Linked DNA regions of Homo sapiens. The protein of the gene in region 1 purifies or fractionates together with the protein of each later gene. This does not show direct contact. Each region holds a gene or a part of one and is shown on either strand. Other genes may lie near its edges.

What was found.
Region 2: the proteins of SLC39A6 (region 1) and CCR6 purify together in Homo sapiens (co-immunoprecipitation; one large-scale study listed by IntAct). This does not show direct contact.

The regions. Positions count from the first base shown.
Region 1 is NC_000018.10:36,107,969-36,110,286, forward strand, and holds the end of SLC39A6 (zinc transporter ZIP6 isoform 1 precursor), read right to left. Parts: intron 1,778-2,318; coding exon 1,625-1,777; 3' UTR 563-1,624; downstream 1-562. UniProt on the Homo sapiens protein: Zinc-influx transporter which plays a role in zinc homeostasis and in the induction of epithelial-to-mesenchymal transition (EMT).
Region 2 is NC_000006.12:167,136,346-167,139,781, reverse strand, and holds the end of CCR6 (C-C chemokine receptor type 6), read right to left. Parts: coding exon 2,427-3,436; 3' UTR 641-2,426; downstream 1-640. UniProt on the Homo sapiens protein: Receptor for the C-C type chemokine CCL20. Binds to CCL20 and subsequently transduces a signal by increasing the intracellular calcium ion levels.

The DNA of each region.
Region 1 (2,318 bases):
ATGTGCCATGTACTTCCCAGGACCTATAAATAATAATACCTGGAGTCTCTCTCAAGCATTGAGTCTCATCACAAGCTCTCCATCGTAAAAATCTTGAATTAAAACACTGACTCTCTTGAGAGTGTAGAATATTAATAATGCTTCTTCTACAGCTTTAGGTCCAGTTGTTAAAAAAAAAAAAAAAAAGAGAGACACCCGAAAACAAACTGTGGACCAATATTTTTTGAAGTGTCCTTTGTGATAAACAATTTAAAAATTGAATAAGGCCACCCAATACAATATTATAAATGAATTGATTAGTATACTACAATCCAGATGATAATTTAAAAATTCAGATAGCTCAATTTTTTAGGAACAGAAAGTAGAATGGTGGTTACCAGGGGCTAAGGGAAAATGGGGAGTTGGCGTTGAGTGGGTATAGAGTTTCAGTGTTGCAGGATGAAGAAGTTCTGGAGATTCATTGCACAACATGAATATACTTAAAACTACTGAACTCTACAGTTAAAAATGGTTCCAATGGTAAAAAAAATTTTTTTTTAAAAAGAAAACCAGACATCTGACGTCAAGCTGATATAAGGAATTTATTGTGTAAAAAAGAAACATCTAGAGAATGCCACAGACAGGCCTAGTATGGCTACAGTACCGTATATAAAAGACAATTGCTCACAATGATAGCACTGAAGCACTGAGAGATATCAAAGTACTTTCTGAATCGAATCAAATGATACTTAGTGTAGTTTTAATATCCTCATATATATCAAAGTTTTACTACTCTGATAATTTTGTAAACCAGGTAACCAGAACATCCAGTCATACAGCTTTTGGTGATATATAACTTGGCAATAACCCAGTCTGGTGATACATAAAACTACTCACTGTACTCATCTGGTATATACCCGCACGAACATTTTGAAATTCCAATTTCTTGGTCAAGTGATATATTGCTTGAATTCATTAAATATATTTAGATTTCTGTATTATACAAAGTTAAATGTACAACTAAATTAGTATATGAAAAGTGCTCACTACGTTTTTACGGGAAATAATCCTGACAAAAATGTTTAATGAATGTACTCTATACTAATTCTGCCTTTTTATACTTAATTCTAAATTTCTCCCCTCTAATTTACAACAAATTTTGTGATTTTTATAAGAATCTATGCCTCCCCAATTCTCAGATTCTTCTCTTTTCTCCTTTATTTCTTTGCTTAAATTCAGTATAAGCTTTCTTGGTATTTTAGGCTTCATGCACATTCTTATTCCTAAACACCAGCAGTTCTTCAGAGACCTAAAATCCAGTATAGGAATAACTGTGTTAGTTCTTGAAAAAGCATTAAAGACATTTTTCCCTGAAACATACAGAACATGTCATGCCAAATCTCTTGTTTACATAATAAACTGGTAATACCGGTGAATTGCACATACAGATTTTATCTCCAAGATAGAATAACTTAAATATTAAAACGTACCTTTAACTGACTTTGTAACAGACAGCAATATTCAATACAAAAATCACAAAACCCACTAACTTTAAACGCTGCATAGTACAGCATACAAACTCATCTCCCTATGACCTACTGAAACTATGACAACTTTTTAAGCTACTCTAGCATTTAAACCTTAACTAGAAATTTATACGAAACACGATTTTATGTTCAAATATGGAAATAAGTAACATAATTCCAAAACCCAAAAGCATCCCAGCATTCTGTAAAAAGAAATACCCCCAGCGGCTACATCCATGGTCACTAGCATCATTGTGCAGCATTTCAGGTACCTTTAAAAAAAAGTAAGGGAAAATAAGAGTGACATTTAAGTTTTTAGAACTACAGATTAGTTTTTAGAAAAATTTATAGGACAGTATACTAGCTTTATTTGTAGCTAGATATACTGTGAGTTAATTCCTTAAAACATGATTACATACATACTGACTCTAGCTAACAATGTCACACAGCATTTCCTAGCAGTTTAACAATGATTACTCATGATGTTCTGGGCAAGAAAAAGTTTGTATTGGTTCCAGTTTCCACTGGAAAATGAAAAGCGATATTGATTTTCCTACTTCAGTTACTGGCTGCATATCTGAACTGGATATAACATGTAGTTTGTCTTTAGTTCAGAGATAGAAAACCTTATACTATATAAGATACATATTGTCTTTGATTGCTTACAAAGTAAAAAATAAAAATAAAATAATAAAATACAATTTTAGCGGTAAGATTGGTTGGGATTGTTTTGAGGACATTAGTGACAAAAAGATATGACTCCTTTGTTGATTAATAAACTAAGCATTCTGAAGTATACAGCATGCCAACAAT
Region 2 (3,436 bases), on another chromosome or scaffold:
AATTCTGACAAGCGCAGATAGCTGATGTCCCCACCAAACATATAGAATAATGTTTGCAATGAGTGGAGAGGAGGACTAACGGCAGACACAGTTAAGGCTCAGGAAGAGACGGCCAGAGCCTGAGAGCAAAAAGATATGGGGAGAATCAATGGGAACCACTGAAGAACAGCCCCTTCTATCTTAATGTCTCCTGAGAGTGTCAGGTTACCATGGCACCTGTTTTGATGCCCAAGACAGCAAGAAAAATGATGTAACCTAATGTACTACATTTAAGAAGAAATAAAGTATGTGGTATATTTTGGAAACATTTTTATACATCTTAGCTAAAATGTTTAAAAGGTTATTGCTTAAATAAGTCAGCTTCATTTATCTGAACATTTAAATTATGCAGAGAAGCTCATCTCCCAGCTTTGGCAAATAAGCAAGATGTTTCTGTGCTAGTTTTCAAGCATGAATCATCTTCATAGATCACATCAGCGCATTGATCACACCAAAAGAAGTGTCTGGGTAACCACTCCTTTGCTTTGATTTCTAGAGTCAAACGCTAACAGATTTGAAGGACATGAGAAAGCCTGAATACCATCCTCTCCAAACAGTGGGCCCCTCAATCTGAACCTTGAAGCTGAAATACGATTCCTACTTCATGTACAAAACACATTTTTTATTTTGCAAAGCCAAAGCCATGCTTTAAAAATACAGACTTTGAATCTTAAGACATTATTTTGCATTTTAAAGAGAGATATAGTTAAAGCTTACAAGAACAATATAAAGTTTCAAATAACACCATTGTCAGGTTTAAACATGTTGGTATGTTTACATGACAGTTCTTTCCTTTTTTTTTTTTTTTTTTTTTGAGATGGAGTCTCGCTTTGTCACCCAGGCTGGAGTGCAATGGCACGATCTCGGCTCACTGCAACCTCTGCCTCCTGGGTTCAAGCGATTCTCTTGCCTCAGCCTCCCAAGTAGCTGGGATTACAGGCACCCGCCACCACGCCTGGCAAATTTTTGTATTTTTAGTAGAGAGGGGTTTCGCCATGTTGGCCAGGCTGGTCTCAAACTCCTGACCTCAAGTGATCCACCCATCTTAGCTTCCCAAAATGCTGGGATTACAGGTGTGAGCCACCATGCCTAGCCCATGACAGTACCTTCCTAACATGTGTTTGTATTTTTGTAACACAAGTTGCTATTTTTCTAATGTTCATATATTTACATAGCCCTTTAAAAACATGAGTTCCATGAACTTTCTATGTCATTGAAGAGAGCTGTTAAAATCTGATTCCATCACAAATTTCAGACCCCTTTAAAATAATTATCAGAAGCCAGCATAATTCCAGCTGTCCCCTAGCTAATCTGCAGCTCCTCATAACAAAAGTCTTCAGCCACACATTGCTCTTCAACCACATTAAAGAAACGGAACAAAACTTCTTTCTACATTGTCTCAGTAAAGTTGCTTTCTTTAAAAAAAAAAAAAAAGTATTCCATTTATTTAAAAAATTAAAAACATCTAACATTTTAAACTGTACAATAAACCCCAACTTCATTACGATTCATTAATCAAATCTCTCTTGAGTCCATTTTGTTTGCTGGAACTCCGCTAGGCACTCAGAGCACAGCTGTGAGCAAGATTATTCTAGATCCTGTCTTCATAGCACTCTCAGCTTAATGGACGTTTAGACAAGAGACACTCACGACAGAGAACAGCTCCCAGGGAAATCAAAGCAAACCGACAGTTTCCTAATGGCCCACTACAACCTGAGCTGCTTTATCCAATTGGTGACAATTGTCACCAACACCTGTTCTGCCATTGTCCCCTTCTTCCCGAAGCACTTCCAGGTTGTGAACACTTGAGCTTGTCTTTCCACCTCCATTTTACAGGGTCAGGCTTGTTGACTGTATCAAAGGGAAATGAGAGGAAACACTAGCCGGCCAATCCTGCTGCTTATAACCAGCAACAATAAACATTCTGATAGATAAAAATGTTTAAACATTTGCCTAAAATGAGTGATGTGTTGGCTTCCATTTTTTTTTCTGTTTTAGTTTTTCAAACCACTGCCATCATTTTGTGCTGTAACCAAAAGACACTGTGATCTGTGACCGCTTCATGAATATTTCTGAAAATGTTTACATTTGTCAACAATTCACTTTAATTCAGCATTTCCCAAAGGCTGTTTTGTGAAATGCCAGGCGGATATATACCCTAGAGCTACAAAACATTCCTTGCAAAGTGCTGGAAAATGCTACCTATCAGAGACCACCCCACCCTGAAGAGATCACACAGCCCATGAGCACGTTAAGTCCCGCAGGAGAGAGGCTTGCTTGATTTTGCTTAATTCCCACATTTTCCATGCATACCTGGCCATAGACTTTTTTTTGCATAACATCTATGAGTATGTTTCACACATGCCTTAGGGAGACTCAGCTTTCTATCACATAGTGAAGGACGACGCATTGTCGTTATCTGCGGTCTCACTGGTCTGCCGAGAAATGTTTTCTGAGTACCTCCCGGCACAGGAGAAGCCTGAGGACTTGTACTTCCTTCTCACACACCACAGGTCCTTCAAGATCTTCAGAAAGTAGTTTCTGAACTTCTGCCCAATAAAAGCGTAGAGCACAGGGTTCAGGCAGCAGTGCAGGAAAGCCAGGACTTCTGTGACAGTTTTCGTATAGCCAATTAGCTTTTCGCTCTGGCAGGATCGGTTCATTTTACCCAAATTTGCAGCCGTCACAAGCAGGACCATGTTATGAGGAATCTGACAAGCCAGAAACACAAGCACCACAGCTATGATTACACGGATGGCTTTGTGCCTTTTAGAATTCTGAGCTTGCACCAAGGTTTTGACAATGAACGTGTAACAAAATATCATGAACATCAAAGGGATAAAGAAACCAAAGAGTAGCTCAAGCCCCAACATCAGCAGCTTCCACCTGATGGGCTCCGAGACAGTCTGGTACTTGGGTTCACAGACATCGCTGCCTTGGGTGTTGTATTTTTGGTTGAAGACAAAAGTTGAGCTGGAGATGATGACTGACAGCCCCCACACAACAAGGCAGATGATTTTGCTGCGCGGTAGTGTTCTGGATCGGAGCCGGAATGACTTAGTCGCCTGTACAATGGCGATGTACCGGTCCATGCTAATGCAAGTCAGGAGCAGCATCCCGCAGTTAAAGTTGATGGCATAGATGCCTTTTAGCAACTTGCACGTGGCATTGCTGAAAACCCACGCACCGGTGGCATGACTCACTGCCCAGAATGGGAGAGTAAGAACAAAGAGGATGTCTGCAATGGCCATGTTCAAGAGATAGACGTCTGTCATAGACCTGGCCTTCTTATAAAAAGCAAAGGTGATCACCACCAGAATATTCCCCAGGAGGCCAAAGACACAGATCAAGGAGTAGGCAATCGGTACAAATAGCCTGGAGAACTGCCTGACCTCCT